2 separate regions of the Homo sapiens genome follow, and region 2 is linked to region 1. A link means that fine-mapping ties the variant in region 1 to the expression of a gene that starts in the linked region. Tissue or cell type: prefrontal cortex. Region 1 holds a variant in brackets; the other region holds the start of a gene. All regions are shown on one strand. Distances are between the middles of the regions.

What was found. PIP is the estimated chance that this variant, and not a neighbour inherited with it, causes the effect.
Region 2: RPL37A-DT starts here. The variant in region 1 is fine-mapped to the expression of RPL37A-DT in prefrontal cortex (BrainSeq, PIP 0.91).

Annotation. Positions count from the first base shown.
Region 1 is chr2:216,315,930-216,323,929 of GRCh38, reverse strand. The region is part of intron 1 of MARCHF4 (membrane associated ring-CH-type finger 4); the gene reads left to right. It overlaps MARCHF4-AS1 (MARCHF4 antisense RNA 1), which reads right to left. Exons shown (of 3, transcript XR_001739877.2): 2 at 5,782-5,852; 3 at 1-2,361. Among named protein-coding and RNA genes, the nearest start is that of MARCHF4-AS1, 17 kb to the right of the region's middle. RefSeq lists enhancers at 3,759-4,490, 4,491-5,222, 7,243-8,000. The variant GAAAGA/A (reference allele first, on the strand shown) is at 3,255.
Region 2 is chr2:216,494,135-216,502,407 of GRCh38, reverse strand. It overlaps RPL37A-DT (RPL37A divergent transcript), which reads left to right and starts at 3,656. Exons shown (of 4, transcript NR_183317.1): 1 at 3,656-3,801. RPL37A (ribosomal protein L37a) reads right to left here and starts at 3,564. Exons shown (of 4, transcript NM_000998.5): 1 at 3,531-3,564; 2 at 3,010-3,138; 3 at 2,377-2,459; 4 at 1-1,067. The coding sequence starts at 3,533. The coding sequence ends at 1,004. RefSeq lists enhancers at 3,488-3,877, 4,058-4,147 and a silencer at 6,250-6,319.

The DNA.
Region 1 (8,000 bases):
GAATGTGTTTGCTCTTGCTTTTCTAGTTCTTTTAATTGTGATGTTAGGGTGTCAATTTTAGATCTTTCCTGCTTTCTCTTGTGGGCATTTAGTGCTATAAATTTCCTTCTACACACTGCTTTGAATGCGTCCCAGAGTTTCTGGTATGTTGTGTCTTTGTTCTCGTTGGTTTCAAAGAACATCTTTATTTCTGCCTTTATTTCATTATGTACCCAGTAGTCATTCAGGAGCAGGTTGTTCAGTTTCCATGTAGTTGAGTGGTTTTGAGTGAGTTTCTTAATCCTGAGTTCTAGTTTGATTGCACTGTGGTCTGAGAGATAGTTTGTTATAATTTGTGTTCTTTTACATTTGCTGAGGAGTGCTTTACTTCCCAGTATGTGGTCAATTTTGGAATAGGTGTGGTGTGATGCTGAAAAAAATGTATATTCTGTTGATTTGGGGTGGAGAGTTCTGTAGATGTCTATTAGGTCTGCTTGGCGCAGAGCTGAGTTCAATTCCTGGGTATCCTTGTTGACTTTCTGTCTCGTTGATCTGTCTAATGTTGACAGTGCAGTAGATACTATTATTATCTCCATTTTACCAAGTGCTGAAACTGAAATTCAGGGTGATAAAATTACATACAAACCTCTCCAACTGGTATCTGGAAGAGCCATATCTTGCATTTCAGATTGAAGGACTCCAGGGCCCAGATTCTTACCCACTCATTTGGATGATTGCAAAAAAGGAGAAAATTAATTACTATAAGCTTAAGGAGGTTGAGAGAATGTAAATATAACTTACTAGGGTATCAGTTTGAACATCTAATGAGGAACACACTTTGCTTATTCAATATTAGGTACACTCATTCAGAAAACCCAAGCCTCTCAGAGAATTACCATTGGATTCTTATGGGCAAGGTGATCAAACTCCATACAAGAGGAAAAAGGTTCTTCTGAGGCATTAGTAGCTTCTTTCCAAGAAAAATTACAACTTTCTTGGCCTTAATAGTAAATAGCTTTGTTTTCTAACAGGACATCTTATGGTATAATGTTTCCATGTTCAACAAAATGCACTCTGACCCACCCAGCTGGGTCACCTGTGTATCTTGAGACCGGTTCTTTTTTTTGAGACGGAGTCTCGCTCTGTCGCCCAGGTGACAGTAGTGCAATGGCAGGATCTTGGCTCACTGCAACCTCCACCTTCTGGGTTCAAATTATTCTCCCACCTCAGCCTCCCTAGTAGCTGGGACTACAGGCACCCACCACCGCACCCGGCTAATTTTTGTATTTTTAGTAGAGATGGGGTTTCGCCATGTTGGCCAGGCTGGTTTCGAACTCCTGATCTCAGGTGATCCGCCTGCCTCGGCCTCCCAAAGTGTTGAGATTACAGGCGTGAGCCACCGTGCCTGGCCGAGACCAGTTCTTAATCCGATAATCTGATGACTGCTAAGACCCTCCACAGCAAAAGTGTGTATGCACACATACATGCAAAATAATACTGTAATTTCAGGAGGTTCACAGGTCCCCTGAAGGTCACTGATGGACCCCCTAGTTAACAACATTTGCTATAAACCAGAATTGGGCCAGATTCCAGGGATAACCAAGCCAGCCTTCAAATTCTCTGATTATTCCAGGCAACTTATCACCAGTGGGCCAATCGTCTGGTTTTAATTTTCTTCTCTCCTAATGACTTGAGGTCCACCTCTTGCTTTTTCATTATCTCCTGGTAAGTTGGTCCTGCTAAACACATTTTAGGAGATGCTGCCTTTGTTGGTTCTCATTCTTGTTACCCACCTTGGACTTCTGTAGACATCTTTGGCAATTCAGTTATTTACCAGGACACACACACACACACATCCCCTTAAGTATACCTCATTGTGCACAATGCTTGCGGTCAGTTTAGTCCTCATTTCACAGCCATTTCAGTCACAGCAACTTGTAAAACAAAGGTCTATTCACAGGTCCACCATGTGTGGATGTTCAGGTTGTTCATTGGAGAAGAGTAGCTGGTTTGGGTTGGAGAAGCTAGTCACTGCAATAGAAATTGAGCCCATGCTCTCCTCCTCAAGCAAGATGCCCAAGGCTGATTCTTCCTGGAGGAATGGGCTTCTTTTTCTGAGTCATACAAATGCAGTATATGGGACAACAGCACTCCCGCCTGATTAGTAGTATCACCAAGAAGTCCAGAAGACATATTGGAAGATAAAATACCAATATCCCTATTCTGATTTTGTATCACCAGTCACCAGTCACTTTGTCTCTTCTTTCTTTTCAATGAAAGTGTTCCCAGGGCTACATTTGCTTGGAAGAAGGAGACCTGAAGGATCCATTGCCTGTATTGCCCATCTCCATTTAACAAGATTCAGGTTTCCGCTATGGCAAGCTGAGAGGGAGAAAGGACAGAATGGGTGGATTATTCCATTAGCATTTTCCCTCCCCTCTTTGCCAACTCAGTTCCTAGCCATCATTCATATCTTGGCTCAAGCATCATTCCTTCAAGGACCGACCAATCCCCTCTTACAGCACCACATTTCTGTCTTGCATTGAACTTAACCACCATTGCAATTTCATGTTATTTTAGATATTATGGATATACATATGTTAATTGTATATATATCCATACACCTCAAAATGATGAGCTTCATGAGAGTGGGGGCCATTCTATTTGTATTTACCATTGCATTCCTATTGCCTGGCACATAGTCGGTATCTAATTTAATATTTGTTTGACTGAATGAATGGATGGGAGGTAATTAGTCCAGATTGTGAGAAGCCCTGGAGTCTTGACTGAAGAGTTAAGAGTTTCCTACAGACAGTAGGAAGCCTATTTTCTGGGCTAAAAGAACTTCTTGTCTCGCTCCAAAGTTCTAGTTTTGAACTGTGTATTATAGCTCTGGCATTCCAACATCATTATTCTTCACTCTTACTCAACTTCAGAGAAATTTTGCAAAATCTTACTTAAAGAAAAAGAGGCATCTGGGTGCGGTGGCTCTGCTTGTAATCCCAGCACTTTGGGAGGCCGAGGCAGGTGTATCACGAGGTCAGGAGTTCGAGACCAGACTGACCAACATGGTGAAACCCCGTCTCTACTAAAAATACAAAAAAAAAAAAAAAAAAGCCAGGCATGGTAGTGCATGCCTGTAATCCCAGCTACTCAGGAGGCTGAGGCAGGAGAATCATTTGAACCTGGGAGGCAGAGGTTGCAGTGAGCCGAGATCGCGCCATTGCACTCCAGCCTGGGTGACAGAGTGGGACTCCATCTCAAAAAAAAAAAAA[GAAAGA/A]AAGAAAGAAAGAAAGAAAGAAAGAAAGAAAGAAAGAAAGAAAGAAAGAAAGAAAGAAAGAAAAAGAGGCTATAGCTCTACAACCTTATCTGCTATGAGAGGCTGCATAATAGGGTAGTGGCTTAAAACATGGGCCTTGGAATTGGGTAGACATTGGTTTTAAACCTGGGTTGCCCATTTGCTGGCTGTGTGATTTTAAGTAAATGATTTCATGCCTCAAAGCCTCAGTTGCTTCAATCTGTAAATGGGGATAATAATATCTTCCCCAAAGGATTGAATGAGTTAAGCAATGTGAAATGCTTATTAGAGAACCTGGCCTTTAGTAAGGACTCAATCACTGGAAGTGTTTATTATTCACTAAACTGGATCCTCATAAGAGAGGCAGGGAATAAAGCACCCATAGGAACTGGGTCAAAAAGAGTTAATACATGGCATCCTTCTTTCTTATTTGCTTCTCAGAAAATATGGAAGGAGTAATACCTTAACAGCTGATATAGTTTACGGGTTTGTTTAATAATGAGTCCCTTATGTTCCCTAAATATATCTTTGTGTCTTACAGTAATCTTAGTTCTGTGGCAGATTTTTTACTTTCCCTTTAACACCACCCATCACACTGGGGAGAGGAAGAAACACTCAACCAAGGCATTGACTAATGATTCAGCTTCTAAACTCACAGAAACATCCAGATTGGAGGAGCATGTCAAGGACCAGCCAGGCAGCAAGTGAAGGCTCTGGTGAGGAATGTGGCTTTCTAGATGACAATGGCAAGTGCTGTTTGTGAGGGCAGGCCAAGCAGTTGGGGGTATTAGTTCTATCATCCTGAGAGTAGTGAGCCTGGGAAGTTTGGCATCTCAGTCCTTGTGGAAGGAGGCAGTTTGAGTGACGGGCTGGGGATGTAAATCCCAGCATCTAGTGTAGATTTCCTTATTCAATCCTGTTTCTCCCATTACCAGTTTCAGCAGAAAATCCAGAGCCTGAAGTCAAAGAAGAGGCTTATTATGTTTCCCAAGAGACCAATAAAAGTTTCTATAGCTTCTGTGCTCAAAATCATAGTATTTCTTTAATTATCAAACTCTCTATAGGGCATGAATAATTTGAAAATTGCAAAACTCTAAGAATGAGGTAAAGAAATTAGGATTATATTGACTTGCTTCAGGTAGGGCCTGGATAGTTTCTTATTCTCTTGCTCTAGACAGGACATGTAACCTGTCTCAAGAGGTTCATTTCATTGATTCCACGAGCATTTATGAGTGTCTGCCGTGCACTGGGTACAATTCCAAACACTGGGGATACAGAAGCACCCCCTGTCCATTGCCCCTGTGGTGGTAGATTTGTGTTTGTTTTGTTTTGTTTTGTTTTGTTTTAGATGGAATCTCACTCTGTTGCCCAGGCTGGAATGCAGTGGCACGATTTCGGCTCACTGCAATCTCTGCTTCTTGGGTTTAAGCGATTCTCCTGCCTCATCCTCCCAAATAGCTGGGATTACAGGCACCCGCCACCACACTGGGCTAATTTTTGTATTTTTAGTAGAAACAGGGTTTCACCGTGTTGGCCAGGCTGGTTTTGAACTCCTGACCTCAAGTGATCCGCCTGCCTCAGCCCCGCAAAGTGCCGGCATTACAGATGTGAGCCACCGCACCCGGCAGGTAGATTTGTTTTAAGGTAAATATATTTCATATTCCAGAATTATTTCAGCAATCACAAATTCTTTTCTTTTTTGAAAAAAGAAAAGAAAATCCATAATCCTACCTCCCCTACATAGACTGCTTTCATTTTTGTGTGTCCCTTTTCTGAAATCTGTGTCTTTAAAATCCCCTAAAGAAGTAGCTTTGATGATTTTTTCTTAGTCACATCATTAAAGTTTGGGGGTGAGGAAAATCTCTTTAGCTGTAAGCGCTTTCTGTGTGTTAACCCAAAGTCCCATCATGACAGCAAGGCCCTGGGCAGTGGAGCCCCTGGCACCTCTCTGATTTCATTTCCTGCCATTCTCATTCACGGCAGCCTCTTTTCTCACATCAGCCTGCTCCTACCTCAGGGCCTGTGAACTTGCCCTCCTCCCTGTCTGGTCTTCCCTCTGATATTCACACAGTTCACTCCCTCACTTCCTTCCAGTCTCTGCTCAAATTTCATCACCTAAGGCTTTCCCTGAACCCCTCTGGTACTTTCCATTGCTCTCCATCCCTTTATTGAGATTTAATTATCTTCATAGCACTTATGACCCCCTCCCATATATATTTTGAAATTACCTGTTTATTAAAGTCTATCTTGTCCTGCTGGAATGAGTCCCCTGAGAGCAAGGGCTTTGTTTGATTTGTTCACTGCTACATCCCCGTCCCCTACAGCAGTTGGCTGGCCTGGGAGGGGCGTTCGTTTGCCCGCTTAAGGATGCTTTCTGCTTCGGCTCCCTTTCCCTTACATTTTGCTCAACAGAGGTGGTGAGGAACTGCCTGCTTCCCTTGCTGTAACATTCATTTAAGGATGACCTGTGCCAAGGTAAGGAAAACTTAGATCGAGGCACTAACCTGCAGAACCTTGAGAGTAAAGACATGAAGGCAACTCTGTTTTCTGCTGGTGACTTGAATCGAGCTTCCTGCTGTAAGAAGGAAAGATTCTGCAATGAGCAACATGCTTTCATTTCCACAGCTTGTATCTAAGATCAGCCTCGGAAGCGCTGGTTGCATTTGCTTGGAAGAACTCTTGTTTTCCTAGTAATCTTCACACCTACTCCCTTTACCTTCTCAGTGTCAGACAGCTGGCACAATGGCTGAGATCTTTCTATTGTCCTCCATCAGCACAAACTGTCCTGGAATTGCAGAATTCTCTGATAGTCAATGTGTCCACTGTTTACTCTTCCATTCATATCCTTCACGCCATCACCACACGACCCGGTCATATGCTTTCTCTACTTTACCCGCTTATAGAGAGGTGTAAAAAAAGCTTGCTTTAAAAGGATTAGGGGCTGGGCATGGTGGCTCATGCCTGTAATCCCAGCACTTTGGGAGGCCAAGGGGGGTGGATCACTTGAGGTCAGGAGTTCGAGACCAGTGTGGCCAACATGGCGAAACCCCATCTCTACTAAAAATACAAAAATTAGCCAGGCGTTGTGGCTTGTACCTGTAATCTCAGCTACTTGAGAGGCTGAGACATGAGATCACTTGAACCCAGGAGGTGGAAGGTTGCAGTGAGCCAAGATCACACCACTGCACTCCAGCCTGGGCGACAGAGTGAGACCCTGTTTCTAAAAAAAAACAAAAAAGGATTAGGAAGCTGATGTTGCATGTGGGCACCCAAATTGGCTCCTCATGGGAGGAGAGGGGGTTTAGTTGGATTTAATGTTTTAGAGCCCAACCTTCCTGCTGCATTTCCCTGACAAGATATGATAAAAGCTAAATACACATAAAAATATTCCCATTACCCCAGAAACTTCTATGAGATAAGAAAATAACACTACCAACCAATGGCTCTGCCATAAGATAATTGTCCAGCAATGTATCACTGGAGAGCAGGTCCTCTATAAAGACGCCAATGAAAGAGTATGGCTTTGGGGGGTGGGGGCACTCATATCAGGCTTGGACTTGACAGGTTCAGAAGCCCCTTCCAGACCAGCTTGGGCTGAAGAGGTTAGAAGGTTGGAGAAGGTTGGAGAGTGCTCATCCTTTCCCTCCCTTGCAGGCAGTCCCCCTCTCCCACCTCATCCCATGCTGGTCATGCTTAGATTACTCAGACGTCCGTAGCCACTCCTGTTGAGCAAAATGTAAGGAATTCCCCCTTGGAGTCCTCTGATGTGCCCAGTGACTAGTCTCTCCTCATCCCTTATGCCAGGATTCTCAAAGTAAAGTGCACAGATCACCTGCTTCTCAATGACCTGGGGTACCTTTTTCAAAATGCAGATTTCTGGACAACACCTTGGACCTGCAGAATCAGAAGTTCTGGGGGTGGGGCAAGAAGTACATAGCAATTTAGGAACTTCTGTCTCAGTGTTCAGTTTTTACTTAGTACCTTGACACTACTCTTAGTTCCTGGCTCTACTGGTATAATTTTGGGATTTGGGGGTGTATCTATTTTTTTGTGCCTCAGTTCTTCTGACCCTGTCCCCGCACCCCTCTCCCGCCCCCCATTTCCCAGGACTGTGGACCTATTTCATTTCTTCAAGAATGAAATTTCCTTCTTCCACTATGCAATACCCCGTTCTAGAAATTTGCCTTTCATCTCTTTCCTTGAATCAGAGAGCTGCCCTGTTTTTGCAAGATTTTGCAGTCCTCAGCAATTTTCCCACATGTTCAAGAGGGACTAGGAGGAAGATAGGGCCTCCGTTTTAGAAAGGGGCGTGAGCAGGCAGGGACCCCACAGCAGGAAGCACAATTAAGAATGTTCTCAGCAGGAAGGCTGCTCTCCGGGAAGCACAGAGAGCTATCAGGACAAGTGACCTTTCTAATCATGCCTGACATTTCACAGCCTCGAAGGCGGAAGGACTGCCCTTATTCCGGAGGCGCAGTGTCGCGCTGTGTCACCCCCAGACACCTGCGTCTGAGCTGTGGTGACTCGGCCTCCAACCAGGCGATGAATCAGAGCAGCAAAGGGCTTTGTTTCCCTGGGAAAAGAGAAAACATTGAGCAGAGGGCTTATGTGGATGGTGACTGTGTCTAAACCAGGGATAGAAAGACCCTGATGGAGGATGTCGCCTCCCTTAGGGATTAGCCCTGCTCTGGAGGGCTCCAGTGATGCAGATCAGACAGACCTG
Region 2 (8,273 bases), 180 kb before region 1:
TGGTGTAGGTCAAATGAAACATCATAGAAGAGGCAGTATATGTATATCCTTTAGTATATCTTTTACCTTCAGAAACTTTTTTTTGGAGACAGAGTGTTGTCCTGGCTAAATAAAGTGCAGTGGCACGATCCTGGCCCACTGCAACCTCCGCCTCGTAGGTTCAAGTGATTCTTGTGCCTGAGCCTCCAAAGTAGCTGGGATTACAGGCATGTGCCACCATACCAAGCTATTTTTTGTATTTTTCGTCGAGACGGGTTTTTGCTATGTTGGCCACACTGGTCTCAATCTCCTGGCCTCAAGTAATCCACCTGCCTCAGCCACCCAAAGTGCTGGGATTTCAGGCGTGAGTCACCGCACCCAGCCTAGACACATTATAAAAATATTAAATGCAAGGCTGGGCGTGGTGGCTCACACCTGTAATCCCAGCACTCTGGAAGGCCAAGGCAGGTGGATCGCTTGAGGTCAGTTCAAGAACAGCCTGGCCAATGTGGTGAAAACTCCATCTCTACTCAAAATACAAAAATTAGCCAGGTATGGTGGTGCGTGCCTGTAATCCCAGCTACTCAGGAGGCTGAGGCAGGAGAATCGCTTGAACCTAAGAAGTGGAGGTTGAAGTGGGCCAAGACTGGTATACTGCACTCCAGCCTGGGTAACAGAGACTCCGCCTCAAAAACAAACAAAAAAACTAACTGTAATTTAAAAACTAAAGTTTACAGTTGGCTCCAATGTATCTCAAAGTCAAACTGGCAGGAGCAGACTTATAAAAAGCTAACACTCATATCTAACTTGGAAGACTTATATTCTTATGCTGCATTTTACCATTTGACTACTAAAAAAGACACTGAATTACAATAATCCATCTTGGCATGCTTTTCCAATACAACAGTATTTACACAATGCAAACATCAGAATGTCTAATAAAGTTAACAAGCCAAGGCAATTTTGTTACATAAATTAACCCATTTATTATAGGCCAGTGATGTCTCAAAGAGTAGAGGAGCGTCTACTGGTCTTTCAACTCCTTCAGTCTTCTGATGGCGGACTTTACCGTGACAGCGGAAGTGGTACTGGAAAGAAAGATTCAGTTTCCAACATAATTAAGCATGTTAACATAGAAAATGGCAAATAAGTAAATCTGCCTCGTTTTTGTGTTAAAGTCGCTTCCCAAATTTTCCTAGAAAGAATTATACTGAGATAGACTGCTCTACCAATACTTTGCTGCAGTCAATCCAAAGATCTAACCAACATTAGATTACTCCTCGGAAATTAGTGGCTTCTAAACTACATGATGGCATCCTTTAAGAGCCATGCCTTCAGGATCTTGCAGAATTAGACATACAATCTCATGCATCTGATTTCTCAACCAGAGTTGCTTTTTTTTTTATAAGTAACTCAGTTGTGGACAAGCAAGCTTTAACTCCCCCTACCCCATCCCATGAAAAAGAAATGGTTCTAAGAGGCTGACCTAAACTTATTAAAAGGGAATGGACAGATTACAAGAAATGAATAAATTACAAGATGATACAGTGAGAACAATGATTAAGGAAATAAGAGCGGACACTAAAGTGCCTTTGGGAAAGACAGCTATTGAAATGACTACAAAAGTTTTACCATAAAATTCAGGAACTATACCTGAAAATCACCATCCTGTATTGTAAGTATATAAATAATTCACTTTCCTATCAGAACCAAGAAAGCACTCTAGTTCCCATTTTCCATTCTGCCCTAATAAAAACCCCCACAAGGAATATATATATATTTCAACATTTTCCACTGCTTCGGTTTAAGTTTAAATTGACTGAAACTTTAAAATCCAATTCTTTAATTACACTAGCCATATATGTGCTTAGTGTATTGGACAACACAGGTCTAGATGCTAGTTTGTAGTATAGTGTTTGTAGTATCGCCCTGTCAGGTGATACTGAGTTGCAGATTCACAAACCTGCAGCAGTCTAATACTGTTCAGAAAGACGAAACTGTGGTGGTCCTGATGGCCTCAAGTTCCAAATACAGTTTTGAACTAACTGACCCCTTCACCTATTTTTATCAAAACTTGCAGTGCAAATCAACGTTCAGTAGATTCAGCCCCACTAATGGACCTGCACAGTATCATGACAATGTTCACAACAATGTGCCCAGTGACCATCAAATTCTAAAGTAGTCTGTGAATTAGATTTCCGACTTCTATTTTGGTAGTTTTGTGTTTACTCTTTCAATAACTGAAAATAAACCACCACGGAAGAATCCTGAAAATACAAAGGCATCCTTATTCTCTCAGTCCTGAGAAAGTGTTAAAACTAGCCCATCCAGCAGCAACCTGGAATTTGGGCCTATGTGGTCCACACACTTCCAAATACCACAAGGAACTAGACTCACTTGTACGTCCAGGCACCGCCAGCCACTGTCTTCATGCAGGAACCACAGTGCCAGATCCCCACAGCTCGTCTCTTCATCTTGGTCTATAAAAGAGAACCAATTTTCACTATGAACCAAGTAAGTATTTTCTCTTACAAGCATCCAGAAGTCTAAATTTGGATTCACCTTATTGTCAGGGATGTGAAAGCCTCCCTTTCTCCCTCAAAAACAAAACAGGGATTGCTGTAATGCAGTATTTTGCACATAAACGTTCAAACCTTTATCAAACAAAAATCCCTCGCAGAACAAGTAGAATGGTATTAGATGCACAGACATCTTGGGAGTTGGTGCAGAAACATCAGTAGACAAAACTGATGGAATCATTTCCCACAAAGCAGGTTTGGCTTAGGCTGGGGGCACTCTGTCAAATGATTATTTTACCCATTAACGTTTAAGCGGTTTTCTTTAAATGAAAAACGTCTCACAAAATCTGAAGTTACCATCAACACTTTTATCTTAAAACTCATAATCAACGGTATGAGTAATTCCAACTGCCCACCAGCACACGGCTTATAAAATACCTTGAAGTCAGGCCTCACTTGGGTAAGAAACCTGCCCTCCCTCTCCTCTCACCAGAGACTTTGCCTTACTTACTTTGCCACAGAAAGAGCAAGTGTACTTGGCGTGCTGGCTGATTTCAATTTTCTTCACCATTTTCCGGAGGGAGGCCCCATAGCGGGTCCCGTATTTACCGACGATCCCGACTTTCTTGGTACGTTTGGCCTGTTTAGAGTGAAGGGAGAAACCAGTGATAGACCTGGAACCCAGGCAGGCCCTGGAGCCTCCACACACCGTTCCTCCACCTCACTGACGTGTGACCGACATGTGAATTACATATGACCTAGTTTTCCCTAAATTCAACCCAACGAAACCAGTGCCCAGGGCTGGCCGCGCGCTCCGAAGGCCCGGCGTTAACCCGGCTGGAGCGCGCCAGGCCCAGCCAAGGCGCCCCCGCCCCTCCGCCTTGGGGAGCTTCCGACAATGGTGTCTCCTGCAAAGGCATGGAGACAGGAGAGAACACGGGGTAAGGCAGGAGAGGAGATGGGTGCGGGAGAAGAAAACAAGGACAGATGCAGGCAGATAGAGTTCTAGGCCGCACAGAGACCCACACTCACCATGTCGCCGCGACCTAGGTCCGAGCCCAGAAAGGAAGAGACGCGGTGCGCAGGCGCGGTATTAGGCGGACGAGCGGAAGTGGCTGGTAGAGGCCTAGCTAGGAACTGAGCTCTATGGTTTGGGCGTTTTCAGGCGGCCTCCTGAGAAATGTTTGCAATTGTAAGGCGTCTCTCTCATCCAGGTTTACCCAGATTCGCAAACTATGGCGACAAACAACCATAGCAGAAGCATGTCCGGATTATTTCACATATATCACAAAATCCTGCAAAGGTACGAGTTCCTCCATTCGATGCACAGCACTTGGCTTGGAGAAGTGCATAAATCTTACATTTGTGGGGCCGGGCGCGGTGGCTCACGCTTGTGATTCTAACACTTTGGGAGGCGGGGTGGGTCAGGAGTTCGAGACCAGCCTGGCCAGCAGGGTGAAACCCCGTCTCTATTCCAAATCTCATTTATTTCCCCCTCTGCATTATGCTCTCTAAAAGTGGCTGACTGTGCAGGATGCTAGCGACAGTGGTGACTAAAATCCAAGGTTCCATTCCCAGAACAAGTTGCAGGCCAGCTGCAAACGATCATATAGCCACATTAAGAAGTTAGACAGTTTCAAACTGGTCAGAGTTCTGAAGGAAAGGACGATGGTTCTGCTCGCGACTAATTCAGAAGAGCCTGGTGTTTCCTGAGGAAAGTCTGAGATTGGAAGGCTGGGGAAAAGTTAACAGTCACCTTGGAGTTTTGTGTTCCAGCTGCTGCATCTCAGTGCGGATGGCCTGCCTTCCACTTCATTTCAGAACTCACTTCCATGGCCCCACACTAGGCTGTTAAGACAGCTTCCTGGTCCAGGCCTGAACCCTTAAACTCCAACATCTTACCCTTTACCCACCGTCAATTCTCTGTCCCTCCAGGTCTCTCAAAGGGGTCAGCAGGGAAGAATTGGATTTCTGGTTGAGGCCGGGGGTGGGGAGGGTGTGTTCTGGAACTAGACACATGATCTTCTTTCTTCACGTAGAACACACACACTAGGAAGTTTGGTTGCCTTTTTTCAGGGGATGGCTAATCCAGAGAATAAGAAGCTCAGAAAACTACTGGAATAAGAGTGTAAGAGAGAATCCATGATTAGAGGGCCAAGAAAGACCATGGGAGCTGAAAGGCATTGTGTGGCCCTGATTCCAATCAGAAGTCCGGTAACAAGTAGCTTCCGTTCCCAAAGCTTAATATTAACTGTCTCAAATAATTTTGCACCTGTTCACTTTTCCTCACAATTGTATTAAAGTCAACTTGCATACCTGGGCTGAGGTGGGAAGATCATTTGAGCCTGGGAGGTTGAGGCTGCAGTAAGCTGTCATCACGCCACTGCAGTCCAGCCTGGACAACAGAGTGAGACTCTGTCTCAAAAAATATATATGAATCAAATCAAATCAAAGCAACTTGCAAACAGCTATGTACTTCATATGGTTACAATTGTTGGAGGGTAACACATGGTAGGCACTGAGTATTTTATGTGGATGTTCTCATTTAATTTTCCATTATCCTTTATGATAGGAATGATTATTATCTTCATTACTAAGAAAAAGAGAGGAAGTCTCATGTAATGATTAGGAACTTAGAGGCTCTGGATTCAGTATGGGTTCAAAACAGAACTCTGCTATTTACCAGCTGTGGGACCTCTGACAAGTTATTATATACTTTTCTTTCTTTTTTCTTTTTCTTTTTTTTTTTTTTTTTTTTTTTTTTTTGAGACAGAGTCTCTCTTGGAAAAGATTCTTTGAGACCAGGAGTTCTAGGCAGCCTGGACAATATAGCGAGACCCCATCTCCACACACACAAAAAAATAATAGGCCAGGTATGGTGACACACATCTGTGGTTCTAGCTGCTCAAAAGGCTGAAACGTGAGGATTGCTTGAGCCCAGGAGTTCAGAGGTTACAGTGAGCTATGATCACACCATTTCACTCCAACCTGGACAACAGAGTGAGATCCTTTCTCAAAACAAAAACAAAAAAAGAAAGAAAAAAGAAACTCATCTCAGGGAAGTTAAGAAACTTGCTCAATGTCACACAGCAATTAGAACTCAAATCTGGTCTGTCTGATCCCAAAGTTAGTTCTCCTAATTGCTAGCTTGTACTACGCCAAATCATAATATTTAGTGCACTGAAAAAGCACATCAGAAAACATAGTTGAATTAAAATCAGGTCCCTGGCACTCAGTCTGGGCCAGGATCTGTAACTACCTTGTGGTTTGACTTTAGGTAAGCCACAGTCCCCACATGGAGAACCACCTCCCCACCTCCCAGCAGCCACCATCTTTATTTACAAGGAGCTGGACCAGGTGGTCTTCAAGGTCCTGTCCAGTTCTTCCCTCCTATGATTCCAGGAAGAGCTTCCAGACTTTGAGTGCCACTGGGGCAGTGACCCACCATGTGCTTTATGTCAGCACATCTTGCACAATTTTGTGGAATAAAGGTAGTTGTCTCTTTATCCTCCCCAATCTGTTATTCCAGCTCTGGCTGTGTAAATTCAAGGAGGAGAAAAAGCAAAAAGTAGTGGATAGTGGGAATAGTCAAATTGATTTTTGCATACATTTTTTGCATTTTCTAATTATCTTTTATAATGAGCATGTGTTTCTTTTATAATCTAAAAAAACTACCATTAAAAAAAAAACCCCAAACATCTCCAGTAACGACGAGTATACCTACTGCCCCAGATCTCAGGGTTTGTTTTTATTTGTTTTGTTTTGTTTTGAGACAGGGTCTTGCTCTGTTCCCCAGGCTGGTGTGCAGTGGTGTGATCACAGCTCACTATAGCCTTGACCTCCCCAGGCTCAAGCAGTCCTTTCACCACAGTCTCCTGAGTAGTGCCCAAATAATTTTTTTATTTTTGTAGAGACAGTCTTGCCATGTTGCCCAGGCTGGTCTGGAACTCCTGGGTTCAAGCAATCCTCCAGCCTCAGTCTTCCAGAGTGCTGGCATTTCAGGCATGAGCCACCATGCCCAGACCCCAGATCTTGGTTTATAATATCATTCTTTAATAAAAGGAACCAGGGCCCCTTAGAGAAGTGACTCATTCTAGGACTGCAGCAGGAAATATACAAGGCGAGCCTGCAGTATCTTGTGCCAGAAAGTAAGGAAATGTTCAGAAAACCCTACACTGATGGGGATATGTCAGAGAGACACAGGAGTCAACTGAAAGAACTCCGAATGGCCAAAGCTAGAAAATTTTGAGCAATAAATAAGGTAGTATTGATTTAACCCAAGTGTAAAATAAATATCCATGGGTCCATGTGGATATAAATAAATGATAGACTAAATAAATGAAAGACAAGAGGCAACTCTCTTTTGCAGAAGAATTTATTTTTTCTTTTTTTGAGACCGAGTCTTGCTCTGTCGCCCAGGCTGGAGTGCAGTGGTATGATCTGGGCGCACTGCAACCTCTGCCTCCTGGGTTCAAGCAAGTCTCCTGCCTCAGCCTGCTGAGCAGCTGGGACTACAGGCATGCACCACCACACCCAGCTAATTTTTGTATTTTTAGTAGAGACGGGGCTTCACCATAACGGCCAGGCTGGTCTTGAACTCCTGACCTCGTGATCCACCCTCCTCGACCTCCCAAAGTGCTGGGATTACAGGTGTGAGCCACTGCACCCGGCCAAGAAGAATTTCAAATAATTTATGTGGATATTCTGCTCTCAAGGAGGGTGAGCATAACTCCCCACTCCCTAAGTGTGGGCTGCACAGAATGACTTCCTTCCAAAGAGCACAGTATAGAAAGGGGAAAAAAGAGTAACTTTATAGCCAACACGACCTCAGCCAAGGTGATGAAGGTCAACATCAACAGTGATAATCTTGTTACTATGTCCCCTTGATGTGGAATGAAAATGGCACTTTGCCTCTGTGATCTTTCTCCCAAAACCCATAACCTCAGTCTAATCATGAGAACAATAGACAAATTCCAAAAGAGGGACATCCTTCAATATACCTGACCAGGGCTCCTTAAAACTGTCAAACCAGGAAAGCCTGAGTAACTGTCACAGCCAAGAGGAGCGTAAGGTGACATGATGACTAAATGTAACATGAAATCTTAGAACAAAAAAAAGACAATACGTTAAAAACTAGGAAGATCCGAATAAACTACAGACTTTAGGTCATAATAATGTATTAATCTTGCTTTATGAATTGTAACCAATTTACCATACTAATGTTAAGATGTTGCCGGGCGCGGTGGGTCACGCCTGTAATCCCAGCACTTTGAGAAGCTGAGGCAGGCAGATCTCGAGGTCAGGAGATTGAGACCATCCTGGCTAACACAGTGAAACCCTATCTCTACTAAAAATACAAAAAATTAGCCAGGCATGGTGGCACATGCCTATAATCCCAGCTACTCGGGAGGCTGAGGCAGGAGAATTGCTTGAACCTGGGAGGTGGAGGTGGAGTGAGTTGAGATCGTGCCACTGCACTCCAGCCTGGGCGACAGAGCAAGACTTCATCTCAAAAAAAAAAAAAAAAAAAAAAAAGTTAACAATAGAGAAAATTGGGTAAGGGTATACAAAAATACTCTCTCCTCAATTTTTTTATATAACTATAAAACTGTTCTACAAAATAAAGTCTATTTTAAAACAACCACCACCACCACCCAAGGAGGTCACCACAAGTCAATTCCATGAGGACAGGGCTTGTGTTGTTCACCTCTGCATCCCAGGACCTATACAAGAGCCTGACGTGTCAGCAGTAATGTCTGTTGAATGGGGGATTGT